4 linked regions of the Homo sapiens genome follow. The protein of the gene in region 1 interacts with the protein of each later gene in a pairwise test. Each region holds a gene or a part of one and is shown in the gene's direction. Other genes may lie near its edges.

Region 1 (8,671 bases):
TCCGCCTGCCTCGGCCTCCCAAAGTGCTGGGATTACAGGCGTGAGCCACCGCGCCTGGCCGGAAGATTTTAATGAAAGGAATATTTTTGAAATTTTGGTCTACAAATCTGGCAAATTTAAGGAATAACCTATTTCAGATGAGGAAGGAAAAAAATGAATGTGAATGTTAAATTCCCTTCCTTAGCACTGTTATAACCACCACTTATTTGGAGAGGAGGTAGTGGGAGAAGTTCTACCTTGGAATACTTTGGGGCCACTGGAGGGTGGCAAGGTAGATTTAGGCCTTTTTTTTTTGAGACAAGAGTCTCACTCTATTGTGCAGGCTGGAGTTAAGTGGTGCGATCTCAGCTCACTGCAACCTTAAGTGGTGCGATCTCAGCTCACTGCAACCTCCGCCTCCCAGGTTGAAGCTATTCTGCCTCAGCCTCCCAAGTAGCTGGGATTACAGGTGCCCACCACCATGCCTGGCTAATTTTTGTATTTTTAGTAGAGATGGGGTTTCACCGTGTTGGCCAGGCTAGTCTCGAACTCCTGACCTCAGGTGATCCGCCACCTTGGCCTCCTAAAGTGCTGGAATTACAGGCATGAGTCACTGCGCCTGGCCTAGGCCTTTTTTTTTTTTTTTTTTCTTTTTTGAGACAGAGTCTCACTTTGTCATCCAGGCTGGAGTGCAGTGGTGCCATCTCAGCTCACTGCAGTCTCAACCTCCTGGATTCAAGCAATCCTCCTACCTCAGCCTCCTAAGTAGCTGGGACTACAGGTACCCACCACCATGCCTGACTAATTTTTGTATTTTTAGTAGAGATAGGGTTTCCATGTTGCCTGGGCTGGGACTTCAGGCTTTTACACAAACCTCCTGCTAACATACCAGTAGATGTGTGTTTATCAGTTTATCAGAGAGTTCTCTCTGACCTATCATATTTTCATATTTTCTCTACTCTTTTTTTTTCTTTTTCTTTTTCTTTTTTGAGATGGAGTCTCATGATGTTACCCAGGCTGGTCTCAAACTCCTGGTCTTAGGTGATTCTCCTGCCTAAACCTCCCAAGTAGCTGGGATTACAGGCATGCACCACTATACCCAGCTACTATACTGTTTTTGTCTCTGTTCACCCAGTATTTATCCCACATATGTGAGACGTACTATTGCGTATTAGGAAAAAGACCAAATGCTGTAGTAAGTGCTCAGTAACTGTCTGCTATATGAGTACATGCAGAAACTTTAGCTGTGAGTACATTTGTTTAGAATGAAGAGGTTTCCTTTCCTTTCTGCTGAGAATCAATGGTGTAAGTTAGAAGCAATGCAAGAGATGATATTGCTGCCTGGGGGTATATCAGGTCTTTGGGGAAGCCAGGTTACTGCTGTGGAGAGGAACGATGGAAGGCTTACCTTGCTCTGTGTGTCTTCAGCTTTGAGGAAGGCGGCAGGAGAAAGTGTGGCCAGTACTGGCCTTTAGAAAAAGACTCTCGGATCCGATTTGGCTTCCTCACAGTGACCAATCTAGGCGTGGAGAACATGAATCATTATAAGAAAACAACGCTAGAAATTCACAACACAGAGGTAAATCCAGGTTTCTTTTTTCTCACCTTGTTGAAACAGGGGGAGAATAATTACTGTAATGAAAATCTCCAGAGGGAATAGGTAGGATACCAGGGAAGTTATGAGTTGCTTCTGTTTTTCTAGGGACAGGATGAGGATATTTAACTCACAGCCAATATAGCCATATTACTGCAGCACGATAGGAACATTAAATAGGAGTAAAGCTTATAATTTTAGAAATCTGGGGCTGGGTGCAATGGCTTAGGCCTATAATCCCAGCACTCTGGGAGGCAGAGGTGGAAGGATCACTTGAGCCCAGGAGTTCAAGATAATCTAGGCAACACAGTGAGATCCTGTCTCTACAAAACATAGAACAAATTAGCTGGGCATGGTGGCACAAGCCTGTGAGGTCAAGGCAGCAGTAAGTTTGATCGTGCCACTGCACTCCAACCTGGGCAACAGAGTGAGATCCTGTCTCAAAAAAAATTCTGGATCTTACAGTATAGGAATTCTGCCTTTTCCAATTAACCAACCCTTCCTTTGGGTTTGTAGTAAAGAAGCAATTATGGGAAAAGTTGACAGTGGTGGATAGGAGCCTTGGTGGTAGGGATAACCAGGGTGTTGAGAATCTGGAAAAGCCAGAGGTAGCTAGGGGCAGGCAGAAATAACCTTGTTAACGTTTACTTCTTTTCTTATCTAAGGAACGGCAGAAACGCCAGGTGACCCACTTCCAGTTCTTGAGCTGGCCAGACTATGGTGTCCCTTCCTCAGCAGCTTCCCTCATTGACTTCTTGAGAGTGGTCAGAAACCAGCAGAGTCTGGCTGTGAGCAACATGGGAGCACGCTCCAAAGGGCAGTGCCCTGAGCCACCCATTGTGGTCCATTGCAGTGCAGGCATTGGCAGGACAGGTAACGCACCTAATGCAGCTCTTGGTGTCTGCAGGGGCAGTAGGGGTGGACGAGGAAAAACAAAGCTCTTAGCCCACATCTGTGATTGGAGAAGGAACTCACTTGCTCCCTTGGTGGTGAATTGCTGTGAAAAATCCCTCATCTAATGTCCTTTTGGTGGACCAAGTGATGGCCAGAATATATATTTCACAAGCCAAGTCCTCTAGGGGTTGATGTTTTATACACCCCATCATAACGCTGACTCTGTCACCTGTTAGAACTGTCACTGCAGGTATCCCAGAGAGCTCAGCTGGGCTGCTGCTTCCTTCCCATCCAGCCCTCCCTGGAGGGACTCCCCACCCTGTGCTGTGTTCTCCATTCTGGAGCCAGTTAGCAGCTTTTGCCTTAAGGGCATGTACATGGTAGGAAATGTTGGCCTTTCTATTTCAAAGGTCCCTTTGGGAGAAAGTTGAGAATAGGTTTTTGTTAGGCCTCTGAAAAACTTGTGGACTCTGGAAATTAGGTGTGGGAGTGCTGTCAGTCTGTCTGTCTGGGATTGAAGCAGGAAGTTCCCCTGTGTCACCTTCCCATTTCCACTTCCTGTTACCCCAAGTGTATGTCCTGAGAAATAAGAGGCCTTCTCATTTCTCTGGCCTCCAACACTCCCTGTGACCTCCTTCTTGAGTCCTTTCAGGCCTAAGGCCACCTGGCCTTCTGCCATGAGGCACTTTGCCTGTGAAGTCATTCATTCAGTTCTGCCTGGGTTATTTGGTAGAGGGAGGAAGAGAAGAGAGGTAAACCAGATGTGATCACTTCCTTCCTTCTTCAGGTACCTTCTGCTCACTGGACATCTGCCTGGCACAGCTGGAGGAGCTTGGCACCCTTAATGTGTTCCAGACGGTGTCACGCATGAGGACCCAGAGGGCCTTCAGCATCCAGACCCCTGAGCAGTACTATTTTTGCTACAAGGCCATCCTGGAGTTCGCAGAGAAGGAGGGCATGGTATCCTCTGGCCAAAACCTGCTGGCCGTGGAGAGTCAGTAACTCTCCTACGAACCTCCTACCTGTTGGCCAGCCTTCCTTAAACTACCCTGGACACCGCTGAGCCTATAGGTTGCCATCAGTTACGCTGAAGCCATGGATCAACTTCTTTCTTGTGTCTCCCAGCACACGTGTGCACGCAAGGCAGCCTTTCCCTTTGGCTAGATAAATGTGGTGAAATTGCCACTAGAAAGGGCCAGTAGCAATGTGTTCTTAATTCCTAGCATCTGCTATCAAACTGTGCCTTATTAAAACCAAATTGTGGCTATTGATTTTTGCTAGGGTCCCCGAGGTAAGTGGGGAAGGAACCTCCCTCCTCCTTTCTCCCGCCATTCTTTTTCTGAGGTCTCCTGTCTCCCACTCCTTCCCTTTCCTAGGATTTTATGGGGAGGTTTGATGAGCATTTGCCTTTCTCCCCAGAGAGCTTGACCAAGTTACATATTCTAGAGATCGTCCTGAGTGCCAAGCACGTTTATAAGTAGGGCGTGTATTCCAGTCCTTTCTGTCATTCTGTGTGTGTGTGTGTGTGCACTTATGTGTATGGGTCCATATGTACGTGTGTATATAATATATATTGTATGTGATAATATGATCGTATTCTATAAATACATATACACACGATACTCCTTTCCAGAAGTTCCTGGGGCTCCGTGTTGCAGTTCAGGACTCCTTGCTTCTTGGACCCTACTATTTATCCTGGACTAGCTTGGGTTGGTGATCATGTCTCCTCTTGTCAGGCTACAGAGTGGTGGAAGAGGACACACACACATCTCCTCCATGTTCCTGCCACAGGGCCCCTTCCTTAAGTAATGACTTATCTCCTTCCAGTTGCCACCTGTTGGAGCCAAGAATGTATTAGTTTGTGGTGACACTGGGTTAGCTCAGCATGGATTTCCCTTATCCGATGATTTTTCTACATTTACTTGGCCAATTTGGGGAACAGACCTCCACTGTGATTCCATACTCTCTCTTTGCTTTCACTATCCCAGGGATGGGAGGCGGAGGGTAGAGATGAACTCACTGAGCAGCCAGAGCCAAATGCAATCGGTACGAATCTTAGAAGGAAGGAGGGGGAGCCCAGGTATGAGAAAGAAAAAACCACTAAGAAAATACCTCCCTGGGAGGATGAGCTGGGGCCCTTTTTCTTTTGCTGGATGGTTCCTTTATGCAGCTTGGCCCTGTCTACCGAGATGCCCATCTCTTCCTGCCTGCTAGCCTGCTAGACCCTCAAACTGGGTGGGTTCTGTGTCAATAAAAAGCTTCACCCCCTGGCTGAGTGAGGTGGTCCCCTGCAATCACTGTTTGTCCCCTACCCACCCAACCTGTCCCTGCCTGCTCCCAGCCCACTCATCCTTATGTGCTAGGGATAAATCAAGAGTCCTCAGCACTCCACATTCCCAAAAAATCCCAGGAACTCCTAAACCTTCCCCTGTGACAGAAGATGAGGTTGGCAGCTGATCAGACCTCAATAATTTTATACTGTAATAAGCTCTTTGAATGTGTATATTATTATTTTTTACAATCATTTCATTTTGTATTTAATATCAATGGACTGAGTCTGATTCAGAAAATAATTGTAATGTTCATATTCAATATCTTACAGTGATACAGTTTTGTATTTACATATAAATATACCGACATGATCAAAACCCTTTTAGCTTCATCAATTTAGCAGCCTGGGACATGAGGGAGGGGGTCCAGGAGCTGGTCTGGGAGGGATGAGGGAGGCAGGGAGGGACCCAAGCCTTCAGTATCTGAGACTTTGAGTTCTGACACTATGAGTTCACCTTGTCTGTAGGCCATGGCCCTATCTCTGGACAGAGGGACCAGCACCAGTTCAGTGCTTGAGATGTGCTAAGCACTATGCTAGGTGCTTTTCCCCCACCCTGCCTCATTCAAACCTCACAACAATTCAGTGAGATATTATCTTCTCTCCCTTCTCCTGTGCACCCCTTTCTCATTTCTATATAGATGAGGAAGGTGAGGTCCAGAGGGTTACAGTGATTTGCTCTAAAACGAGCTCAAGTTGGTCTGCTTACAAAGCCTGTGGTCTCTTCACTGCATGGAAGATGGAGATCTTGTGTTTGGAGAACAGAGGTTTGTTTAGCTCTCCTTTCAGAGTAAAAAAAGTTCTTAAATTCCAGGTTGTTGTTCTTGTGCCCATGCTTCATGTAGTAGACGCGAAGGGTGACAGGGTTGGTGACTGACTGTCCTAGCTAGGACCTCCTGATGTAGGGTCCTCATGTCTGCAGCGTACCAAAGGGGTTATCATTCTCCCCAGGAGACTCCATATCTATGGGTACATGGTCTTTGTGAGAAGATCTTGAGTCATTTGCATTTATCTCTTAGAAAGAAAGGAACCAGAAGCTTTGTACATGGAAGACCACTCCCCATATCATACCTGTTGGCTGTTGATGGCCTGCCCAGTTGGGGCAGTTGTGGCTGGGAAATATTGGGGTGTTCTTAATAATAGTCATAGCAGCCAATTTACTGGATGCTCACTCTATTCCAGGCACTGTTCAGAGTAATTTCTAGGTATCATCTCATTCACCCTCAACAACCTTTTGAGGTAGGTATTGACAGAAGAAAAAAATTGAGAGACAGGAATGTTAATTTGCTACAGCCAGGATCCCAGACCATCTGACTCCAAAGTATCTTCTTTCACCTCTTACACTAGACTTCCTCTAAGGATCCATCTTCTGATCTGCCAATAAATTTTTATCGAGTTTCTTACCATAATCAGGAGCTCAAGTGTAGAGCAGAAGATTAATCTAGTTCCTTCTCCAGATGAGCCTCCATTCTCTTGGGAGTGCACAAACATAAGAAGTGAACAGAGATTCTTGGAAATCTGAGAAACCAGAGAGGTCAGGGGTTTGGTGGAACATGTAAGAAATGGGATTAATGATAAACGGCCTGGAGGAGGTAACTTTAAATTGTCATTTATTTGAAGAGGCTGTAACCCGACTGCCCTGTGAATTTAAGGTTATGCATGAGTTCCTCATTGCATATCTGAAGACTGGTGAGGTTATCTATCACTTCAGCTCCATAAAATGCTGATTTCTGGGCCCATCCAGTAGGTTGTTAGTGAGTGACAGGATTATCCAGGTTTGGGAACCATAGATTTAGTTCATGTTTCTGACCCTATAGAGAGTTAACAAATTGATGTCTCCTAAATTTTCAGTAAAACTCAGAGGAACTCCTCCCACTGCCATTGTTTGTAGCTTTTACCAGCGTGAACCTACCTGTGTTAGGTGTTAAAGGAGGAGGTAAAGGAAAGGGAAGGCAGAGACGCAACCCAGAATCTGTTTGGCAAGTCAGGGTTCTCATACAGGAGACTTAGTGAACAAAGCAAGAGAAAATGCTCAGGGTCCAAGTGCAGTGGCTTTATGCCTGTAATCCCAGTACTTTGGAAGGCCGAGGTGGGCAGATCACCTGAGGTCAGGAGTTTGAGACCAGCCTGACCAATATGATGAAACCCCATCTCTACTAAAAATATAAAAATTACCCGGGTGTGGTGGTATGTGCTTGTAATCCCAGCTACTCGGGAGGCTGAAATGGGAGAATCACTTGAATCTGGGAGGCAGAGGTTGCAATGAGCCGAGATCGCGCCATTGCACTCTAGCCTGGGCAACAAGAGTAAAACTCCATCTCAAAAAAAATAAATAAATAAAAAAGAAAGACAGTGTTCAGGAAAGAAGAAAACACTGAGCTAAAGCAGGCTTCTGCTTCTGATTTGATGGCTGTTTGTTTCACCTTTCTCTAACATTCCCATGCTATATAATTTTTCAAACATGAGATAATCCCTGTGTCCTTTTTCCCATTGCTCCCTTCATCTTGCCCATCCTCATTGGCTAGGATGGGACTCCTGAGACGAAGGGTGCCCCAGCATCCTCAGCCTCGGAGGCCCACCCTTATCAGTCTTCATGTGACAGTATGCAGGTAAATGACAGAGTAGGACTTGTTCTTGGGAGAATGGACTATTTAGCATCATAGCCCTAGGGAAATTTGGTTCCTTCCCTGAAAGGAATGCTTCCTGTCTCTTGGGACAGACAGACACACATACAAAAACTTTTATAAATCAGAGACCTAGAGGGAATTGGGCCAAGAGGCATTGGCCAAGTAGAAAAGCTTCTCTAGAGTGACCCAGCTCTTTTGTGGTTTTGAGGTCTTACCACTGAACCAAACCCAAGTCCTAGGTTCCCTCTGTAAAAGAAGGGGCTACACTAGATGATCCTACCATGGGTCCTCTGACTGTCAGGGTCCAGTTCTTTGTTAGACAGTGCAAACACCCATAGAGGAGCTATTAGGCCTTTACTTGGGTTGAGTTGGCTCCCACTAGCACTCCCCACTTTTCATTTTTTTTACTTTCAGAGACAGAGTCTCACTCTGTTGCCTAGGTTAGAGGGGAGTGGCATGATCATGGCTCACTGCAGTCTCAACAACTGGGCTCAAGCAGGAACCCAGCTTTTTTTTTTTTTCTCTCTCTCTCTCTAGAGACAGGATCTCACTATGTTGCCCAGGCTGGTCTCGAACTCCAGCCTCAAGCAATCCTCCTGCCTCGGCCTCCCAAAGTGAGAGGATTACAGGCATGGGCCACCACACCCAGCCTCTCCAGTTTTAGTGTGTTTTCAGAGTCTCTTCTTTCAAGCTGCTGCTACTTCCCTAGCTTCCCTCAGTTCTCTTCCCCCTTGGCCTTCCAATTGGAGGAAAAGCAGGTCAGGTCTCTGTCATCTCCAAGACCAGCCTATAGGCCTTTAAAGTTTCCCTGTTTCTTAATGTGGGGTCTACAGGGTTTCTCAGAGGCAAAGCATGAACAGACCAAGGGTCCTATAGCTCCCAACCTAGTCCTTAGATTTCTCTCTGGCCTTGGTTACTCCCACAAACCACTGTGAGCCTACCAAGGGCAGGAATGGAAATGCCCATCAGCCTGGGAACCATCTTTTTCTCTTAGGAGGTATCCGCCCTATAGTTACCTTTACACAACACTTGTGAATATCAAGTGTTCTAGACTGCACTGTTCATAATTGACTACAGAGAAGACTAGGATCTTCTCCACAAATAGAAATATATCACTTTTACTTGGAGATGTTTTCTTGGGGGAAAAAAAATCTAGCACCTTGAAACCTGTTACAATGTTTAAATCTCCCTTCTTTACCTTGGCTGTCATAAAATCCTCCTGTTTGAGCTAAATGTGGCCTGCTGAAG
Region 2 (8,928 bases), on another chromosome or scaffold:
AGGTTTCGTTTGTTTGTTTGTTTAGATGGTGTCTTGCTGTGTTACCAGGCTGGAGTTTGTAGTTACTCATAGGTGCAATCATAGCAAACTACAGCCTTGAATTCCTGGGCTCAAGTGTTCTTCCTGCCTCAGGCTTCTGAGTAGCTAGGACTACAGGCCTGTATCATGGAGTCTGGCATGTCTCATACAAGTTTTTGTTTCAGCACCTATTATCAATTTTTTTCTTTCTTTTATTTTCTTTTTTTCTTTTTTCTGTTTTTGAGAAAGGGTATCACTCTGTCACCCAGGTTGGAGTGCGGTGGTACAATCTCAGCTCACTGCAACCTTCCTCTCCCAGGTTCAAGCAATCCTCCCACCTGAGCCTCCCAAGCAGCTGGAACTACAGGCATGTGTCACCACACCCAGCTAGTTTTTTGTATTTTTTGTAGAGATGGGGTCTTGCCATATTGCCCAGGCTGGTCTTGAATTCCTGGACTTAAGCAATCTACCTGCCTTGGCCGCCCAAAGTGCTGGGATAACAGGCATGAGCCACTGTGCCTGGCCACCCATTATCAGTTCTTTTGGGTATATACGCAGGAGTGGAATTACTGGGTCATATAGTAATTCTATGTAACTGTTTGAAGAACTGCCAAACTTTCAACCCAGCAGTTACACCATTTACATTCTTACCATCAATGTATGAGGGTTCCAGTTTCTCCACATCCTCACCAACACTTGTAATTTCCTGTTGTTCTTATTATAGCTATCCTGGCAGTTATGAAGTGGTTTTGATTTGCATTTCCCTAATTTCCTTCAACTAATAACATTGAGCATATTTTCATGTGCTTGTCTAAGAGGTTTTTTTTTTTCTCTGAATATTCCTTTTTGGTAACATCTTATTCTAAACTTTTTTTTTTTTTTTTTTTTTAATAGAGATGGGGTCTTGCTATGTTGCTCAGGCTGGTCTCGAACTCCTGGGCTCAAGCCATCTGCCCACCTCAGCCTCCCAAAACGCTGGGATTACAGGCGTGAGCCACCTCACTCAGCCTTATTCTAAACTTTTTTTTTTTTTTTTTTGAGACAGAGTCTTGCTCTGTCACTCAGGCTGGAGTGCAGTGGCACAATCTTGGCTCACTGCCACCTCTGCCTCCCGGGCTTAAGCGATTCTCCTGCCTCAGCCTCCTGAGTAGCTGGGACTACAGACATGCACCACCACTCTGGGCTAATTTTTGTTTTTTTAGTACAGATGGAGTTTCACCATGTTGGCCAGGCTGGTCTCGAACTCCTGACTGTAAATGATCCACCCACCTCGGCTTCCCAAAGTGCTGGGATTACAGGCATGTGCCACCATGCCCAGCCTTATTCTAAACTTTTTATGGTTACAGTATCTTCTCAGTTTACCTGAGAATACTGATATATACATGTGTATAAAATGGTATATATATGAACACACATATATATACCATTGTAAACATTTAATGACATATCTTTTTCTTCGTTTTGACCTCTGTTATGTTATAGGCTTTCCTCAAATGTTTGGTGACTCTTAGTTGTCATTTATATTTCAAAGTAGAGTCCTCAAAAGCTCATTGGAAGCTCTGTGCCTGTAGGTGAGAAGTCTCAACTGTGGGATTCTGTGTTGGGTGATCTGGCTGGGCTCCACTTTGGGGTACTTCCATTGTCAGGATCTTTGGGTCTTTCTTCTTGTGCTAATCATGTTTTCCAGAGAGAATGTGAGGTCTTGGCTACCATGATCTCGGGAAGGATGTCTGGGGGTCTCATTCATTAAGCAAACTTTCACTTACTCCACCTGTTTTTAGTACAGTATTCCTTCCCTGAACTGTGCCTAGTGATCTCTAACTAAGAGGCCTTCTGTTTCACCCTCTCCAGAGAACAAAGCTCCAGTCTTGGGGGATGGGTGTGAAAAGGGATCTAGGGATCCACTTGCTTCTTTAAAAGACTTTCACTTGCTCTTCTTGTTTATTACTCCTGCCTTCACCCCCTAACTCTACACTTACTTGGTGCTGCCCATTCCTGAGCCTTTTGTTCTGTGATATAACCTGTGCTGCATAATATTTCAGCCTTTCCCCTGCCAGTTTAGGGTTTGGCTTTCTTGGATCTGCTAAGTTACAGTTGCCCATTTGCTTCCCAGCTTCCAACATTTTGTTGCCATTGTCTCCTTTCCCATTCCATTTTTTTTTTTTTTGGTAGCCCAGGCTGGAGTACAGTGGGGTGATCTCAGCTCACTGCAACCTCCACCTCCCAGGTTCAAGTGATTCTCCTGCCTCAGCCTCCCGAGTAGCTGGGATTACAGGCGCTCGCCACCATGTATGGCTAATTTTTTTTTTTTTTTTTTTTTTTTTATTTTTAGTAGAGACAAGGTTTCAACATGTTGGCCAGGCTGGTTTTGAACTCTTGACCTCAAGTGAACTGCCACCTCAGCCTCCCAAAGTGCTAGGATTACAGGCATGCACCATGGTGCCCTGCCTCCTTTGCCATTCTTTATCCCAACAGTTTAATGCCCAACCCCACCCCCTCAAAAAAATCCCTGTAACTGTCATTTCACTGGGATTTTGGGAGAAAGCAGAGGCAAGAGTCTACATCCAACCACTCAATGTCACCACCGTCTAGCACCATTGTCTATCTCAAGTTCTTAGTATATTGCTTAATCCATAGTAAGTGCCCAATAAATATTTGTTGATTTAGGGTCAGTCCTCTATATCTGTGGTTTCTGCAGCTATGGATTCAACCAACTGCTGATAAAAAAAAATTTGGAATAAAATAGGCTGGGCACAGTGGCTTATGCCTGTAATCACAGCACTTTGGGAGGCCAAGGTGGGCAGATCACTCGAGGTCAGGAATTCAAGACCAGCCTGGCCAACATGGCAAAACCCCGTCTCTACTAAAATCACAAAAATTAGCCAGGCGTGTTAGTCGGTACCTGTAATCCCAGCTACACAGGAGGCTGAAGCATGAATAATTGCTTGAACCTGGGAGGTGGAGGTTGTAGTGCGCAGCAATCATGCCACTGGGTGACAGAATGAGACTCCGTCTCAAAAAAAAAAATTATTTGGAAAAAACAATAAAAAATAAGCTGGATGTGGTGGCTCATGCCTGTAATCCCAGCACTTTGGGAGGCTGAAGTGGGAGGACTGCTGAGACCAGAAGTTTGAGACCAGCCTGGGCAACATAATGAGACCCCATCTCCAAAAAAAAAGAAAGAAAAAACAATTTAGCCAGGCATGGTGGTGGCATGCCTGTAGTCCCAGTTACTTAGAAGGCTGAGACAGGAGGATTGCTTAAGTCTAGGGGGTCGAGGTTACAGTGAGCTATGATTGTACCACTGTACTCCAGCCTGGATGACAGAGTGAAAAGTCTATTTTAAAAACAAACAAAACAAAACAAAACAGAAAAACAGGTGGGGCACGGTGGCTCACATCTGTAATCCCAGCCCTTTGGGAGGCTGAGGTGGGTAGATCACTTGAGGCCAGTAGTTTGAGATCTGCCTGGCCAACATGGTGAAACCCTGTCTCTACTAAAAATGCCAAAATTAGCTGGGCGTGGTGGTCCCAGCTGCTCGGGAGGCTGAGGTGGGAGAATCGCTTGAGGTGGAGGTTGCTGTAAGCAGAGATCTCACCACAGCGCTCCAGCCTGGGTGATGAGCAAGACTCTGTCTCAGAAAACACACACACAAAAAACCCCCAAACAACACACACACGCACACACAAAAATATAGATAAAAAGTAATACAGTAGAACAATTATTTAAAGTATACGAGAAGATGTGTGTAGGTTATATGTAAATACTACACCATTTTATATAAAGGATTTGAGAGCATCTTCAGATTTTGGTATTTGAGGGGGTCCTGAAAACAAGCTCCCTCTCTTGCCCCCATACAGAAGGACAACAGTATTAGAGTCACTGTCCTTCCTATCTTTGAAAAAGTTGAGGGCTGGGCATGGTCAGTCACACCTGTAATCCCAGCAATTTGGGAGGCTGAGGCAGGAGGATCCCCTGAGCCCGGGAGTTCGAGATCAGCCTGGGCAACACAGTGAGGCCCTATCTCTACAAAAATAATGATGATGAAAATAATAAATAACTTTTTTTTAAAAAAAGAAAAAGTAGGAACCTGGGCTCTGCCCACCAATGAACTGTGTGACCTTGGACAAGCTACTTCCAGTCTGCAGCCTTAGTCTCTTCTTCTGTAAAATAGAAATAACAACGATACGTTCTTCAAGCGCCTTGCTCAGTGCCTAGAACATGGCAAGCTCTCGGTATTTGTGGTTGTGGAAGGGTTCAATATCAAAGCGACACTTCTTAGTCAGTGTTTTACTTAGCTTAAAATTAGCCTTCACACTTGAATTGTAAATTGGTCCCTAATTAATGCCCTTCGGGGCAAAATCTGTGTTTAACCTTACTTTATGCGTAGACAGAGCTAGCAAAGCTTTTCAGCTGAGAGGAGAGGAACATGTCAGTCGCCTGGGTCAGGCCGGCGGGGACAACCTGCAGTGGGGCGGCTCCTCACCCTGCCCCGCCCGCCCCTGGCCTCGGAACCGGTTTGTTCCAGGCGCCCAGCGTGAGAACACAGGCACTTACCCACCTCTCGTCGGCCCAATAGTCTGAGTCAAGCCCACCCTGGCCACGCACCGTTCCCGGCACCCGGGTGGCGCAGCCCGTCTCTGTCTTTACCGAGAAGCTCCCCACCCTATGCGTCGAGGACCCCACTTTCTTCAAAGGAGAACCTGAGGCAGCGTCTGGGAAAGCAACTCCATGGCCTCCAGGTCCACCTCGACCCTTTCCTCAGCCCCAAGACCCCGCTGCCTGAACCCCATCGCCCCGCGTGCCGGGATCGCCAGCGCCCACCAGCGGCTCCCGCCCCGGCTCTAGGCGCAGGTGGGGGCGGGGCCAGGGCGGGGCCTGAGGAGCCGGCGCCCCGCCTCGCCCCGCCCCTCCCCGAGGCCCGCGGCGCCGCCGCCTCCACCTCGCTCGAGCCGCGGAGCGCCTCCGAGCGGCCGGCTGCGGCCTGGCTCCGCCTCTCCCGGCCCGGCGCGCCCGCTCCCGCCTCCTTCCCTCTCCTGGCTCCCACCTCCCTCCCTTTCCGCTGCCGAGGCGGCGGGAGCCGAGCCCGAGCGGACCGAGCCGCAGCCGCAGCCGGGCGGCGGGCGAGAGGCGGCGGCGGCGGGCGGGCCGCGGGCAGTCAGTCGGGCGGCGGCGGCGGCGGCGGCGGCGGCGATGCGGCGGCCCCGCTGAGTCCGCCCGCTCCTGGCGCCGGGAGCCAGCCGCGCGAGGCGGCCCGGGCCGGGCGGCAGCATGCGGAGCGGCGAGGAGCTGGACGGCTTCGAGGGCGAGGCCTCGAGCACCTCCATGATCTCGGGCGCCAGCAGCCCGTACCAGCCCACCACCGAGCCGGTGAGCCAGCGCCGCGGGCTGGCCGGCCTGCGCTGCGACCCCGACTACCTGCGCGGCGCGCTCGGCCGCCTCAAGGTCGCCCAAGTGGTAGGTGCCGGGCGGGGCCCCAGGTGCCCGAGGGCGGCCTAGCCGCACGCCTCCCTCCCCGCCCCGCTGCGGGGCCTCCGCCGCGTACCCGCTTGCCCAGGCCGGAGCCCGCTCCTCGCGCCCCCTCTCCCTCGTGGGGTCCCGGGACCACTCTGCAGCCTTCTCTGGGGACCCCGCCTTCGGCCAGAGCCTGCCCTTCCCAGGCCGGCAGCCTCAGGTGTGCGCCTCCTACCTGAGCACCTGCCTTCGGGCCTACCTGTCCGCTCCGCCCTCGCTCCCGGGAGTCTGTGGCGTTACTGGGCTGGGTGCTGCTGGGAATCCTGCTGTCTCCTGGGTACAGCTGGTCTTAGCAACCTGTGGCAGGTTTTCCCGGCCCGCGCAACCTCCGGACGGTGCCTGTTTCTGCCTGCGGAGACGAGGGACTGTGGTTTGGTTCCCACTTGATGTCTAGCTGGGTGCCAGGCGTATATGGTAGGCGCTTAGTAAGTATTTGCTGGATGGAGGCAGGTAGCCCTGATGCAGTGGAGGAGCCCAGATATGCCCACAATTCTCTACACTGCAGAGGTTTGTGTCCTTCTAACCAAGAAGACAGACTTGGCATCCCGGAATCCACCGCCCAGCACGGTGGCTGGCACTGCCCAATTGGTACCCAGAGTTAAATCTGGGAGGGCAGCCAGTTTTGGAGGTAGCAGAAACAGAGAACTTTCTGTTGGACTTGTCTGTAGTAGAGCTCATTTCTCAGGGTCCTGTGTTTTAGCTTCCAGGGTGTTCTGGGCAGGGGCCTCTCAGCTCTGTTCCTGCTTTGTGGTTTTGTAACATGCCTCTGCGGGCAATTGCTTAGCTCTGTTGTGGGCATGCTCTAATTCAGAAAAACCCGTGTGTCCCCCCAACATTCTCTGTCACAGGTAGGCCTTCTGAGGCCACCGGCCTCAAAACTTTATAGACTTCTCATAGCCAGAGAAGCCACTTGTTCTTGTTCTCTCTCTCTCTCTTTTTTGAGACCGGGTCTCTGTCGCCCAGGGTGGAGTGCACTGGTGCGATCGTGGCTCACTGCAGGTTCGACCTCCCAGGCTCAAGCGATCTTCTCACCTCAGCTTCCCGAGTAGCTGGGACTACAAGCACGTTCCACCATGCCGGGTTAATTTTTGTATTTTTAGTAGAGATGGGGTTTCACCATGTTGCCCAGACTGGTCTCCAACTACTGGGCTCAAGCGATCACCCCTCCTTGGTTTCCCAAAGTGCTGGGATTACAGGCATGAGCCACCGTGCCAGGCCTGGTCCTCCTTTTCCTACTTGAGTGCATAAGCATTCCTTGGGAATAATATAATGTGTGGATACCCTTTAAATAAATGTCCTGGCGTTTGTAAATGACAGAATCATAGGCTATTTTATGTCTCTCTTGGGTGAAAGGCTTGTTCTGCTGACTGCCAGAGGGTATTTTTGAAGGGCTTTATGGAAAGAAAAATGGATCAGATAATCTGTCTTCAGAATTTTAAATTTACCTTATCTGGTAAACTGGAATGTTTTCAAAGATGCATTGGTTTTTAGTTTGGCGTTGCTGTTAGCAAAGAGAATGTAGGAGGTGAAGGGAGGTGTGCAATTGCCTTTTTTTTTTTTTTTTTTTTTTGAGATGGAGTCTAGCTCTGTCGCCCAGGCTGGAGTGCAGTGACACAATCTTGGCTCACTGCCACCTCTGCCTCCCGGGTTCAAGCGATTCTCCTGCCTCAGCCTCCCGAGTAGCTGGGATTACAGGCGCCCACCACCACGCCCAGCTAATTTTTGTAATTTTAGTAGAGACGGGGTTTTGCTGTGTTGGCCTGGCCAGGCTGGTCTCGAACTCCTTACCTTATGATCCGCCCACCTCGGCCTCCCAAAGTGCTGGGATTACAAGCGTGAGCCACCACACCCTGCCTGCAATTGCCTTTTAAAAGAGGCAGCTAGCCAATGTTTGAGTATGGGGTGCCAGCAGCCCGTACAGATAATTAGAAATGAATAAGAAAAGAGCAGGGCTTGGTCAAATACCTTGCTTTGTTTGCACTGTGGGAGTTTGAAAGTAAATAGAACTTGTCCCTAAAAGGATCTAGTAAAAGAATTGAAATCTAGTTTGTAGACTGTTAGTTATTACTGCATTGCTAGGAGTTTATCACCTAAGTCCAGGGATGGAAGCCTGTGGCATTTATCATTACTTTTTGGTAAGGTACTGTTTTGTTGTAGCGTTGTTCTTTTCTTTTTTTCTTTTCTTTTCTCTTTTCTCTTTCTCTCCCTCGCGCTCTCTCCCTCTCTCTTTCTTCTCACTCTTTCTTTTTCTTTCTTTTTTAAACACTGGGTCTAACTCTGTTACCCAGGCTGGAGTGCAGTGGCACAATCTTGGCTCACTGCAACCTCCGCCACCTGGGCTCAAGAGACCCACCCACCTCAGCCTCCCAAGTAGCTGGGACCACAGACGCACACCACCATGCCCAGCTAATTTTTTGTATTTTTGGTAGAGACGGGGTTTCACTATGTTGCCCAGGCTGGTCTCGAACTCCTGAGCTCAGGTCATCTGCCCGCCTCGGCCTCCCAATGTGCCTGGATTACAGACGTGAGCCACCACGCCTGGCCTAGATTTGTACTTTTCATCCGGAAGAACTTTTGGGCCTAGCCCCCAGAATCTCGCCTAACTCTGTTGTTTGTTAATCTCTAGAACTTAAACTCTGAGAGGTTATATGTGGGTGAGTAAAGGAAAGGGACCTGCTTGAAGGGTATGGCAACTTCAAATGGTTTTGGTGTAGTTGGCTTCCCAGCCTTGATGAAAATCCCACAAAACTCCAAGAAATTGGACTCTAAATTTAAACTGAAAAGAAAATAAGAAGTCATTATGAAGATACTTCTGAGATGTTACAAAACTCAGAATCCATCAAGAAATATGAGTAAGTTCTAACTCTGCGGTTTGGAGAAAAATTTGACTTTTAAAAATCAGGAAGCTGAGGTGGGGGGACTGCTTGAGCCTAGGAGTTCAAGGTCACAGGGAGCTATTATGGTGCCTCGGAGTAGCCACTGTGCTCCAGCTTGGGCAACGTAGCAAGATCCCATGTCTAAAAATAAATTTAGTGGTGTGTATGTTTTTTTTTTCTTTGTGTTAGACTTTTGTTCTTGATGCCCAGGATGGAGTGCAATGGCACCATCTCAGCTAACTGCAATCTCCGCCTCCTGGGTTCAAGCAATTCTCCAGCCTCAGCCTCCCGAGTAGCTGGGATTACTGGCGCCTGCCACCATGCCTGGCTAATTTTTGTATTTTTAGTGGAGACGGGGTTTCGTCATGTTGGCTAGGCTGGTCTCAAACTTCTGACGTTAGGTGATCCACCCGCCTCAGTCTCCCAAAGTGCTGGGATTATAGGCGTGAGCTACTGCGACTGGCCATAAATTTAGTTTTTTTAGATTTTTTTTTTTTTTTGAGATGGAGTCTTGCTCTGT
Region 3 (4,437 bases), on another chromosome or scaffold:
GAGGGATTGTGCTTGAGGGTCTCTTGGGGGCTCTGATACTGGGAGGTCAAGGAGGAGTCGAGGAAAGGGGACACAGTCTTCAAAAAGGAAGCCCTGGCCGTTTCCAGGCTGAGGTAGGAGCAAGGACGACGGGAGCTGAGCGGCTCTGTGTTTTGTCCCTTCATCCAACAGGAACCTAAGGAGATGCTGACTCTAAGGTGAAAGAGGGCACCTAGGGTGGGAAATTGGGGGGCTCAAAGTTGCTTCTTTGAGAACCTTGAAGGCGTGGGGGCCTTTGGGAGGTGTCCAGGGGGACAGGGAGCCAACCCCACGGCGCCCACCTCCCACCTCCAGTGAGTACCACGAGCGCGTGCGCTCCCAGGGGCAGCAGCTGCAGCAGCTCCAGGCCGAGCTGGATAAACTCCACAAGGAGGTGTCCACTGTTCGGGCAGCCAACAGCGAGGTGAGCCCCGGCCCACCTTGGAAACCCCTGATGGATCCCTGCTCCCAGGGTCCTGAGACTTAAGCTCCGCCCAGAGCCCTGCGGGATTTCTCCCGGTGCCCACGAAGTCCATCCCAAAGCAACCAGCTCCCAGAGGTCCCGTCCACCTGTAAAAGCAGCCCGCAAGCCTCGCCCCTCCAGGCCTCGCCCTCCCTCCTTGCAGAGAGTGGCCAAGCTCGTGTTCCAGAGGCTGAATGAGGATTTTGTGCGGAAGCCCGACTATGCTTTGAGCTCTGTGGGTAAGACCCGGAGACACTGGAAGACAGAGACGCAGACAGGAAAGAGGCCAAGACACTGACACAGACAGACCCATGCACCTGACCGGCCGAAGACAGAGCCTCGGACAGCCCCCACCCGCCCCCAGCCCCCGCGCCCCCGCGCCCCGACTCCCGGCAAGGCCTGGGAGCCTCTGAGGGTTACTTCTCACTGTTCCAGGAGCCTCCATCGACCTGCAGAAGACATCCCACGATTACGCAGACAGGAACACTGCCTACTTCTGGAATCGCTTCAGCTTCTGGAACTACGCACGGCCGCCCACGGTTATCCTGGAGGTGAGTCTGGAAACATCCCGGGATGGGACCCCGGGCGGGACGCTGGGAAAAGCACCAAAACCCCGCCCTACAGGCGGAGCTTGGCTGAGCCGAGGGCGTGGAGGATGGCGTTTAACTCAAGGAGAGACCTGGCATTGCTGGGGACTGGGGCGGGCTGGAGGTGGAGCTCTGGGCGGGTCGATGGATGGGGTCGAGCTGAGGCCCGGGCTGGGGAGCGGCAGCAGTCGCTCTGTCCGACGGTTCCGATGGTCCCTCCGCCCGCCTGCAGCCCCACGTGTTCCCTGGGAATTGCTGGGCTTTTGAAGGCGACCAAGGCCAGGTGGTGATCCAACTGCCGGGCCGAGTGCAGCTGAGCGACATCACTCTGCAGCATCCACCGCCCAGCGTGGAGCACACCGGAGGAGCCAACAGCGCCCCCCGCGATTTCGCGGTCTTTGTGAGTGCGGACGAGGTCAGGAGGTGGGGGATTTTGCCTAGAGAGCCCAAGCAGTCTTGAGAACTGGTGCCGTTATCTGAGTCTTCGCTTGCTCATCTATAAAATGAAGATACTACTATTTGCCTCTCAGAGCTGCTGTAGGTTATAGTCATAACCATATCCAGATATTAGTTATTGCTTGCAAAGCACTTACTCCGTGCCAAGCAGTTTACAGGCATTCTTATTTTGCTGTTGTTTTTGAGACAGTCTCGCTCTTGTCACCCAGGCTGCTGGAGTGCAGTGGTGCCATCTCAGCTCACCTGCAACCTCAGCCTCTAGGATTCAAGCGATTCTTGTGCCTCATCCTCCCGAGTAGCTGGAATTACAGGCGTGCGCCACCATGCTCGGCTAATTTTTGTATTTTTAGTAGAGATGGGGTTTCACCATGTTGGCCAGGATGGTCTCAAACTCCTGACCTCAAGTGATCCGCCTTCCTCGGCCTTCTGAAATGCTAGGATTACAGGCATGAGCCACCGTGCCTGCTTTGCACCCACATAACAACCTATGATGTACTGTTATCTCCCCCTTTAAAGATGAAGAAAGTAATGCTCAGAGAGGGGAAGTTATTTTTCCAAGGTAATACAACTAACAGTTGGCAGGATTAAATTTAAAACCTGGTTTCTTCCCGGGAGGTGGAGCTTGCAGTGAGCCAAGATCTCACCACTGCACTCCAGCCTGGGTGACAGAGCAACACTCCGTCTCAAAATAAATAAATAAATAAAACCTGGTTTCTTAGAGCCCACATTCTGAATTACAGTGTACGACCATCAAAAAATACATGAGAACATGCATATAGCTATTGAATACACAGAAGATCCTCAGCAAAGTTTTCTTCTCCCCGCCCCCCCCGCCCCACCTGTCCCCCTCATAGTTCCTCCTTTCATTCTTCACCCACCAGGGCCTCCAGGTTTATGATGAAACTGAAGTTTCCTTGGGGAAATTCACCTTCGATGTTGAGAAATCGGAGATTCAGACTTTCCACCTGCAGGTGTGTTTGTCTCTAGGGTGAAGGTGCCAAGGGAGTGGGGCAGTGAGGGATGAATGATCCAGGAGGAGGGCAGCCCTTGGCATGATCCATTTGTCTCCCCAGAATGACCCCCCAGCTGCCTTTCCCAAGGTGAAGATCCAGATTCTAAGCAACTGGGGCCACCCCCGTTTCACGTGCTTGTATCGAGTCCGTGCCCACGGTGTGCGAACCTCAGAGGGGGCAGAGGGCAGTGCACAGGGGCCCCATTAAACATGCTGATTTTTGGAGTAGAATTGAGTTCTGCTGAAGGATACTGGATCAGTGCTTTCGGGGGCTCTGTTGGGAGAGCTCTGGCTGCCGTTGCATCTAAGTATGGAGGGGCTGACTTCCCAATGCACCCTCTTTTCTTGGAGAAGTCTTGATCAAGATCGTAATAGCAGCTCCTGTTTATGGAGTGCCTACCACGTACAAGAAACAGTGCTGTGGACATTACACACATTACCTAACTTCATTCTCACAACCAGAAAGGGAAGCTGCTCAGGTCAGGAAACTTGTTCAATGTCACACAGCTAGTGAAAGGCAGTGACAGAGCAGTACCCAGGCCCACCTTCCTCCAGAGCCAGTCCTCTAACTGCAGAGCTGCAGGCAGCCTGAACCCACCTTTGTGCTCAATTCCCAGCCCCAGTGGGAAAGTCCCCAACTCCTGCTAGGTACCGGTGGAGGGGTAGCTACCCACCTTCTGCAGGCACACACTCAAAAGCTAAGGAGACTTGATAACCTCTAGGAAGCTTCTGAGTCACAGAGCTGATGCAGGCCTGGTAGCCCCTACATAGGTTGTCTTACTGAGACCTGAGTTCCCAACTCTGTGTGAGGCACAGCATAGATGATTTAGTGTTCACCAGTCCCTGCCCTCAAGGAGCCTGACAGGGGAAAGAAGAGACTCCAGGAAACAGGACAATGCATTTACAGATCCAAGAATTCTTCACTCTAAGGGTCGAAAGTGGAATTGCAGGGAAAAAAGATGGAGGAGAAGGCAACAAAGGATTAATGAGTTCTACCTAGGGGTAGGAAAGGAGGACCAGCATGAGCAAAGCAACACGCACAACATGCACCATCTTGGAGGGCAATGTGCAGTATCTGGTAAAATTTTAAATATACCCTTTGATCTAGCACTTCCACTTTTAGGAACAAATTCTTCAGAAACATTCCTGTTAAGTGCACAAAGATACATGTACAAAGATGTTCATTATAGCATTGTTTGAAAAAAACTGGGATTCAAATCTCCATGAATAAGAGACGGGTACGCTCCTACAAAAAAATAAGATGTAGGCATTAACACCTTCCCAATGTGCTCATGCTTTAGAAGAATATACAGACTATTAATAGTGTTTATACTTTTAAGAAGTGAAATTCGGCCTGGTATGGTGTCTCATGCCTGTAGTCCCAGCACTTTGGGAGGCTGAGGAGGGTGGATCATGAGGTCAGGAGATCAAGACCATCCTGGCCAACATGGATACAAAAATTAGCTGGGCGTTGTGGCATGTGCCTGTAGTCCCAGTTACTTGGGAGACTGAGGCAGGAAATCACTTGAATCGGGAGGCAGAGGTTGCAGTGGGCCAAGATCGTGCCACTGCACTCCAGTCTGGCGACAGAGTGAGACTCCATCTCAAATAAAATAAATAAATAAATAAATAATCTGGGGGATTTTTTTATAATTTGAAGATGAAAAAGACCCCACTGAGTGCTCTCAAGGCCTATTTTTATTTATCAAAGCCTAAGTTTAGAATTATGAACTAATGCAGCTTTTCTGGAGGGCAGTTTCACAACAGGAACCAAAAGCCTTACAACTTTTTGTACTCTTTACTCACAGCAATTCCATTTCTAAGAATGTATCCATAGAATACATAGATGTATTCAAAGGTAATATTTATAAGGAAATTTAACAGTGTTGTTTATAAATTGG
Region 4 (8,671 bases), on another chromosome or scaffold:
CGGAGTCTCCCTCTGTCACCCGGGCTGGAGTGCAGTGGTGCGATCTCGACTCACTGCAACCTCCACCTCCCAGGTTCAAGCAATTCTCCTGCCTCAGCCTCCTGTGTAGCTGGGACTACAGGTGTCAGCCAAAATACACGGCTAATTTTTGTATTTTTAGTAGAGATGGGGTTTCACCATGTTGGTCAGGCTGGTCTCAAACTCCCGACCTTAGGTGATCTGCCCGCCTCAGCCTCCCAAAGTGCTGGGATTACAGGCGTGAGCTACCATGCCTGGCTTTTTCTTTTTTCTTTGAGATGGAGTCTTCCTCTGTCACCCAGGCTGGAGTGTAGTGGCGCAGTCTTGGCTTACTGCAACCTCCGCCTCCCAGGTTGAAGCAATTCCCCTGCCTCAGTCTCCCAAGTAGCTGGGACTACAGGCGCCCGCCACCACACCCGCACCTAATTTTTGTATTTTTAGTAGAGACAGTGTTTCAGTATGTTGGCCAGGCTGCTCTTGAACTCCTGACCTCATGATCCACCCACCTCAGCCTCCCAGCGTGCTGGGATTACAGGTGTGAGCCACCATGCCCGACCCTTTAGCCTCATATTACAGGTAAGATGACCGAGGCCAGAGGAGGGGAAGGCGCCTTGCTCCAGGGAGCATAGCGTAGGTGGAGCTGGGACTCCTGGCTTCCCCCTGAGAATCTCTTCTGATGATGGTGTCCCAGCTTCATTTCACTAGTCCAGGAAAAGGGAGTTGTGGCTTCATCCCGCTTACATAGACTCACCTGGGGAACCCCGTCCTCCCCACACCCCTGACCTGGACTTCATAGCTCTGCGGTGCAGGCAGGCATGTTATCTCACTTTTTAAAAAAAGCCTAAATTTTGGCTGGGTGCGGTGGCTCACAGCTGTAATCCTAGCAGTTTGGGAGGCCAAGGTGGGCAGATCCCTTGAGCTCAGGAGTTCAAGACCAACCTGGGCAACATGGCAAAACCCCATCTACTAAAAAACAAACAAACAAAACAACAACAACAACAAAAAAAAAAACAAACCACGGCTGAGTGCAGTGACTCATCCTGTAATCCCAGCACTTTGGGAGGCTGAGGCGGGTGGATCACGAGGTCAGGTGTTCAAGACCAGCCTGACCAACATAGTGAAACCCCATCTCTACTAAAAATACAAAAAATTAGCCAGACGTGGTGCACACCTGTAATCCCAGCTACTCAGGAGGCTGAGGCAGGAGAATCGCTTGAACCCAGAAGGCGGAGGTTACAGTGAGCCGAAATCACGCCACTGCACCCCAGCCTGGATGACAGAGCAAGACTCCCTGTCCAAAAAAAAAAAACAAAACCACACACACACACACACACACACACACACACACACACACACACACACACACACTAGCCAGGTGTGGTGGTGCGTGCCTGTAGTCCCAGCTACTTGCAGGGTCAAGGTGGGAGAATTGCTTGAGCGTAGGAGACAGAGGTTGCAGTGAGCCAAGATCGCACCACTACACTGCAGCCTGGGCGACAGAGCGGAAATCCGTCTCAAGAAAGAGAAGAAAGTTTGCCCTATTTAACACATTTTATCCCTTGACTAGATCTTTGTTCATGTCATGTCAGTTACATTTAGTCTTTTGTTTGTTTTGTTTTGTTTTCTTTTTTTTTTTTTTGAGATGGAGTCTCGCTCTGTCACCCAGGCTGGAGTGCAGTGGTGCAATACCAGGTCACTGCAACCTCCACCTCCTGGGTTCAAGCGATTCTCCTGCCTCAGCCTCCTGAGTAGCTGGGATAACTAAACATGGAGGCGTGCACCACCACGCCTGGCTAATTTTTGTATTTTTAGTAGAGACGGGGTTTTGCCATGTTGGCCAGGCTGGTCTCCACCTCCTGACCTCAGGTGATCCTCCTGCCTCGGCCTCCCAAAGTGCTGGGATTAGAGGTGTGACCCACCACATCTGGCCCATGTGAGTTACATTTAAATCTCTTTTTTTTTTTTTTTTGAGACAGAGTTTCGCTCCTGTTGCCCAGGCTGGAGTGCAGCGGCGCGATCTCGGCTCACTGCAACTTCCGCTTCCCGGGTTCAAGTAACTCTCCTGCCTCAGCCTCCTGAATAGCTGGGATTACAGGCATTCGCCACCATGCCTGGCTAATTTTATATTTTTAGTAGAGATGGGGTTTCTCCATGTTGGTCAGGCTGGTCTCGAACTCCTGACCTCAGGTGATCCACCCGCCTTGGCCTCCCAAAGTGCTGGGATTACAGGCGTGAGCCACCGCACCCGGCCTTTAAATCTCATTCTTTAGCCACTGCATTGGGATACACTTATTTTTGTTTTTGTGTTTTGAGACGGAGTCTCACTCTGTTGCCCAGGCTGGAGTGCAGTGGCGCGATCTCACCTCACTGCAACCTCCGCCTCCTGGGTTCAAGCGATTCTCCTGCCTCAGCCTCCTGAGTAGCTGGGATTACAGGCGCCCACCATCATGCCTGGCTAATGTTTGTATTTTTAGTAGAGACGGGGTTTCACTATGTTGGCCAGGCTGGACTCGAACTCCTGACCTCGTGTTCCACCCACCTCGGCCTCCCAAAGTGCTGGGATTACAGGCGTGAGCCACTGTGTCTGGCCACACTTGTTGTTTTCTTATTCCCCTTTTGCTGGGCATCCAGGTTGTTTCCAGTGTCATGTTGTGGCCAGTAAGTCCACACAGCTCTGCTCATGTGGAAACACAGGTGTGGGTTCTTCCCCGAAGTGAGGTTTCTGGGTCAAGGGGAAGATGGCTCTTGGAACTTGACAGCTATTGGCAAATTGTCCTCTACAGAGGTTTTAGGTCATACCTGGCTTGCTGGAGTACAGGTGAGCCCTGAAGGGACTGTTCCCAAGCCTTGCTTCCTGACGTGTGTCCCAGGGACCAGCTGCATCAACACTGCCTGGGAGCCTTTTAGAAATGCAGGGTCAGGGCCGGGCATGGTGGCTCACTCCTGTAATCCCAGAACTTTGGGAGTCCAAGGCAAGAGGATTGTTTGAGACCAGGAATTCGAGACCAGCCTGGGCAACATAGCAAGATACCATTGGCCAGGCACAATGGCTCACACCTATAATCCCAGCACTTTGGGAGGCCGAGGCGGGCGGATCACGAGGTCAGGAGATCAAGACCATCCTGGCCAACATGGTGAAAACCCGTTTCTACTAAAAAAATACAAAAAATTGGCCAGGTGTAGTGGCACACGCCTGTAGTCCCAGCTACTGGGAAGGCTGAGGCAGGGGAATTGCTTGAACGTGGGAGGTGGAGGTTACAGTGAGCCGAGATCGTGCCACTGCACTCCAGCCTGGCGACAGAGCAAGACTCTGTCTCAAAAAAAAAAAAAAAAGATAACATCTCTACCCAAAAAGAAAAAATTAAGTAGGCGTGGTGGTGTGTGCCTATAGTCCTAGTTACTTGGGAAGCTGAGGCAGGAGGATCCCTTAAGCCCAGGAGTTAGAGGCTGCAGTGAGCTGTGATTGTACCACTGTACTCCAGCCTGGGTGACAGAGCAAGACCCTGTCTTTAATGAGAAAAAAAAAAAAGAAAGGATCAGGTGTGGTGGCTCACACCTGTAATCCCAGCACTTTGGGAGGCCAAGGTGGGTGGAACACAAGGTCAGGAGTTCAAGACTAGCCAGGCCAATATGGTGAAACCCCGTCTCTACTAAAAATACAAAAATTAGCTGGGCGTGGTGGTGGGTGCCTGTAATCCAGCTACTCGGGAGGCTAAGGCAGGAGAATTGCTTGAAACCAGGAGGCGGAGGTTGCAGTGAGCCCAGGTTGCCCCACTGCACTCCATCCTGGGCGACAGAGTGAGACTGTCTCCAAAGAAAATAAAGAAAAAAAAAAAGAAATAGGGGGCCAGGTGAGCCCCATCCCGAAGCTTTAGAATCAGCACTTGCTATTGAACAAAGTCCAGAGGTCACTCTTGTGCCTGCTAAGGACTGAAAGACACAGCTGTAAGTCATGGGCAGGTGTGAACCCTGTCTTCCAGCTGCAGCGTGGGCCTGGACTTTCTCCTGGAAGGTGGGGCCAGGCAGGCTGTACCTGACTGTTCCTCTCTCCTCAGCGTCTGCTGCAGAGACCATGTCTGCCGACGGGGCAGAGGCTGATGGCAGCACCCAGGTGACAGTGGAAGAACCGGTACAGCAGGTGAGGAAGGGCCGGGACCAGGGACTGCCCCGACCCTGTGATTCCCGTGCAAGGAGGCTTCCCACCCCAGGGTGCCCTGGCAGGGAGCCAGGGATCTGCCGGCAGCTCACGGAGCCAGAGGGATTTATTCCTCAGTGGGGTATGGACCACTCACTGGTGTCCCCAGTTGGGAGGGGGGAATCTCAAAGGCCCTTGGAGGGCCTGAGGGAGCAGGGTTCTGTCTGAAACTACCTGCCCTCCCCAACCCCTGAGCCAAATCATCCTCACCTCTGAAGGCTCTCTCAGGGACGTCCTAGGAGGCCAGTTTCTATTCCAGATCTCTCATCCTCAGGTGATTTTATTTTATGTATATATTTTTGAGATGGAACCTTGCTGTGTCGCCCAGCCTGGAGTGCAGTGGTGACATCTTGGCTCACTGCAACCTCTGCCTCCTGGGTTCAAGCAATTCTCCTGCCTCAGCCTCCCAAGTAGCTGGGGTAACAGGCATGTGCCACCACGCCCGGCTAATTTTTGTATTTTTAGTAGAGACGGAGTTTCACCATGTTGGCCAGGCTAGTCTCAAACTCCTGACCCAAAGTGACCCACCCGCCTCGGTCTCCCAAAGTGCTCGGATTACAGGCGTGAGCCACTGCTCCTGGCCCCAAAAATAATTAAAATTTAAAAATCAAGTGGTGCGCTGGCTGTGACCCATGGGCTGTGGTCTACAGCCCCCGGTTTAGACCCTAACTGCCATGAGAATGGAACTGTTGTCCCTTATCACCACCTGGCACATCGCTGGGATAAAGTGCAGGCTCATGTAAATAGCCTGTGTTCAAGGAAGCACGTGGGCTGAGTGCGGTGGCTCACGCCTGTAATCCCAGCACTTTGGGAGGCTGAGGTGGGCGAATCACGAGGTCAGGAGTTCAAGACCAGCCTGGCCAACATGGTGAAACCCCATCTCTACTAAAAATACAAAAAAATTAGCTGGGCGTGGTGGCACCCGTAATCCCAGCTACTCAGGAGGATGAGGCAGGAGAATCGTTTGAACCTGGGAGGTGGAGGTTGCAGTGAGCTGAGATCGCATCAGTGCACTCCAGCCCGGGCAACAGTGCAAGACTCCGTTTCAAAAATAAAATAAAAATAAAGGAAGCACGTGGCGAAACCCCAAGGTTCCTGGCTTGTGCAACTGCCTGGATGCAAAGTGTGGGTAAACTGAGCCGTTTCACTGGCCAGGAGTAAGAGCAAAACTGCAGGGCACCCTGAGTTTCCGGCTGAGCTCCCCATCTTCCCCCACCCAGTTTGCCTGAGCCACTTCTCTCCTGTAGCCCAGTGTGGTGGACCGTGTGGCCAGCATGCCTCTGATCAGCTCCACCTGCGACATGGTGTCCGCAGCCTATGCCTCCACCAAGGAGAGCTACCCGCACATCAAGACTGTCTGCGACGCAGCAGAGAAGGGAGTGAGGACCCTCACGGCGGCTGCTGTCAGCGGGGCTCAGCCGATCCTCTCCAAGCTGGAGCCCCAGAGTGGGTGAAGTCCCAGGGGGCACTGAATTCCCCTCCTGGTCATTTCCCTGGGTGGGGAGTAGGGGGGTCTACCCAGCTCTTGGTCCTGTCCCCCTGAACCATTACTAGGTGACCTTCCAGCAGTCACATTTGCGTCTTAATTGTTGTTGGCAGTTGCATCAGCCAGCGAATACGCCCACAGGGGGCTGGACAAGTTGGAGGAGAACCTCCCCATCCTGCAGCAGCCCACGGAGAAGGTAACGATGTCCGTCCTCAGGGGCTCTGTCGAGACAGGGACCTACCTGGGTGTGGAGTGCGCTGGTCCCAGCTTAACTAGACAAGCTTGATGGCATCCTCCCTGCTGCCTCTCCTGTCGGTTCCCATCCCCACCCCGAATCCACTCCCCACAGGGTAGCTGGAGGAATAATTGCAAAGCCAGCCAGATTACAGGCGCCTGCAACCATGCCCATCTAGTTTTTGTATTTTTAGTAGAGATGGGGTTTCACCATGTTGGCCGGGCTGGTCTCGAACTCCTGACCTCAGGTGATCCAGCTGCCTCAGCCTCTCAAAGTGCTGGGATTATAGGAATGAGCCACGGTGCCCAGCCCACTTGTTTTTATAATAAAGTTTTATTGGCACACAGCCATGCCCATTTATTTACATATTGTCTATGACTGCTTTCACCCTACAATGGCAAGGTTGAGTAGTTGTGACAGAGACTGTGACCCACAGTACTGAAAATCTTAGTTACGTGGCCCTTTACACAGAATGTTGCCACCTCCATAACTTATTAGTCAGAAAAGGTTGGCGGCAGGAAAGTCAAAACATCAAAACACCATGTTCCTGGCCGGGCGCGGTGGCTCATGCCTGTAATCCCAGCACTTTGGGAGGCCAAGGCGGGAGGATCACCTGAGGTTGGGAGTTTGAGACCAGCCTGACCAACATGGAGAAACCCCGTCTCTACTAAAAATACAAAATTTATCTGGGTGTGGTAGCGGGTGCCTGTAATCCCAGCTACTCGGGAGGCTGAGGCAGGAGAATTTCTTGAACCCTGGAGGCGGAGGTTGCAGTGATCCGAGATCATGCCATTGCACTCTAGCCTGGGCAGCAAGAGTGAAACTCCATCTCAAAAAAAAAAAAAAAAACCAAAAAAACACCATATTCTGGCCAGGCGCGGTGGCTCATGCCTGTAATCCCAGTACTTTGGGAGGCTGAGGTGGGCGGATCACAAGGTCAGGAGATCGAGACCATCCTGGCAAACACAGTGAAACCCCATCTCTACTAAAACTACAAAAAAAAAAATTAGCTTGGCGTGGTGGCGTGTGCCTGTAGTCCTAGTTACTCGGGAGGCTGAGGCAAGAGAATCACTTGAACCCAGGAGACGGAGGTTGCAGTGAGCTGAGATCGCGCCACTACACTCCAGCCTGGGCGACAGAGCGAGACTCTGTCTCAAAAACAACAAAACAAAAAAAACACCATGTTCCAAACTGTGTCCTGCCCCTCAGCAGCTGGGTGGCCCTCACACAAGTTACTTTGCCTCTGTGGGCCTCACTTTTTTTTTTTTTTTTTTTTTTTTGAGACGGGGTCTTGCTCTGTTGCCAGGCTGGTGTGCAGTGGTGCAATCTCGGCTCACTGCAACCTCCACCTCCGGGTTCCAGCGATTCTCCTGCCTCAGGCTGCTGAGTAGCTGGGGTTGCAGACGTCTGCCACCACGCCTAGCTAATTTTTGTATTTTTAGTAGAGACGGGGTTTCACCAAGTTGGCCAGGATGGTCTCAATCTCTTGACCTCGTGATCCTCCCGCCTCGGCCTCCCAAAGTGCTGGGATTACAGGCATGAGCCACTGTGCCCGGCCCCCTCTTTTTTTTTTTAAGATGGAGTTTCGCTCTTGTTGCCCAGGCTGGAGTGCACTGGTGCAGTTTCAGCTCACTGCAACCTCCACCTCCCAGGTTCAAGCGATTCTCCCGCCTCAGCCTCCCGAGTGGCTGGGATTACAGACATGTGCCACCACACCTGGCCAATTTTTGTATTTTTAGTAGAGATGGGGTTTTACCATGTTGGTCAGGCTGGTCTCGAGCTCCCGACCTCAGGTGATCCACCTGCCTTGGCCTCCCAAAGTGTTGGGATTACAGACATGAGCCACCAGGCCCAGCCTGGGTCCCACTTTCTTTTCTACAGAATGGCAATGCTGACCTGGGGTTAACACCTGAAGGCCCAGAACAGCACATGGCTTGTAGCAAATGTTGGCTCTTAACATTAAAAAAAAAAATTTTTTTTTTGAGACAGGTTCTCACTCTGTCACCCAGGGTGGGGTGCAGTAGTGTGATCATGGCTCAACTGCAGCCTTGAACTCCTGGGCTCAAGTGATCCTCCCATCTCAGCTTCCCAAGTAGCTGGGACCACAGGCATGCACCACCATGCCTGGCTATTTTTAATTTTTTGTAGAGACGAGTTTTCACCATGTTGCCCAGGCTGTTCTCAGACTCCTGGGCTCAACAGATCCTCCTGCCTCAGCCTCCTGAGTAGCTGGGACTAGGTGCATCCACCACGCCTGGCTAATTTTTGTACTTTTTGTCAAGACGGAGTCTCGCCATATTGCCCAGGCCGGTCTCCAACTCTTGGGCTCAAGCAATCCTCCTGCCTCAGCCCCACAAAGTGCTAGAATTATAGGAGTGTGCCACTGTGCCCTACCTCAGTTTCCCTTAATCACCGCTTTTTAAAGACCCTGTCTCTAAATACAGCCACATTCTTACCCCTGGGGATCAGGACTTCAACATAAGAATTTGGGGTTGAGGGGGCCATAATTCAACCTATAACAGCCTGGGATGAAAAAATGAGGCACAGACCAGGCGTGGTGGCTCACGCCTTACTCCCAGCACTTTGGGAGGCCGAAGCGTGCAGATCACTTGAGATCAGGAGTACGAGACCAGCCTGGCCAACATGGTGAAACCCTGTGTCTACTAAAAATTCAAAAATCAGCCAGGCGTGATGGTGAGTTCCTATAATCTCAGCTACTCGGGAGGCTGAGGCACGA

The links.
Region 2: the proteins of PTPN9 (region 1) and CMTM4 interact in binary tests that used the Homo sapiens proteins (3 or more experiments, as listed by UniProt).
Region 3: the proteins of PTPN9 (region 1) and SPAG4 interact in binary tests that used the Homo sapiens proteins (3 or more experiments, as listed by UniProt).
Region 4: the proteins of PTPN9 (region 1) and PLIN3 interact in binary tests that used the Homo sapiens proteins (3 or more experiments, as listed by UniProt).

Annotation. Positions count from the first base shown.
Region 1 is NC_000015.10:75,463,567-75,472,237, reverse strand, and holds part of PTPN9 (tyrosine-protein phosphatase non-receptor type 9), read left to right. Parts: intron 1-1,387; exon of another isoform or gene 1,388-1,407; coding exon 1,408-1,558; intron 1,559-2,238; coding exon 2,239-2,446; intron 2,447-3,254; coding exon 3,255-3,469; 3' UTR 3,470-8,671. UniProt on the Homo sapiens protein: Protein-tyrosine phosphatase that could participate in the transfer of hydrophobic ligands or in functions of the Golgi apparatus.
Region 2 is NC_000016.10:66,692,887-66,701,814, reverse strand, and holds the start of CMTM4 (CKLF-like MARVEL transmembrane domain-containing protein 4), read left to right. Parts: upstream 1-5,071; 5' UTR 5,072-5,289; coding exon 5,290-5,475; intron 5,476-8,928. UniProt on the Homo sapiens protein: Acts as a backup for CMTM6 to regulate plasma membrane expression of PD-L1/CD274, an immune inhibitory ligand critical for immune tolerance to self and antitumor immunity. May protect PD-L1/CD274 from being polyubiquitinated and targeted for degradation.
Region 3 is NC_000020.11:35,618,279-35,622,715, forward strand, and holds the end of SPAG4 (sperm-associated antigen 4 protein), read left to right. Parts: intron 1-171; coding exon 172-197; intron 198-333; coding exon 334-442; intron 443-644; coding exon 645-720; intron 721-916; coding exon 917-1,032; intron 1,033-1,300; coding exon 1,301-1,468; intron 1,469-2,405; coding exon 2,406-2,495; intron 2,496-2,597; coding exon 2,598-2,744; 3' UTR 2,745-2,816; downstream 2,817-4,437. UniProt on the Homo sapiens protein: Involved in spermatogenesis. Required for sperm head formation but not required to establish and maintain general polarity of the sperm head. Required for anchoring and organization of the manchette.
Region 4 is NC_000019.10:4,856,814-4,865,484, reverse strand, and holds part of PLIN3 (perilipin-3), read left to right. Parts: intron 1-4,073; 5' UTR 4,074-4,090; coding exon 4,091-4,156; intron 4,157-5,460; coding exon 5,461-5,659; intron 5,660-5,812; coding exon 5,813-5,895; intron 5,896-8,671. UniProt on the Homo sapiens protein: Structural component of lipid droplets, which is required for the formation and maintenance of lipid storage droplets. Required for the transport of mannose 6-phosphate receptors (MPR) from endosomes to the trans-Golgi network.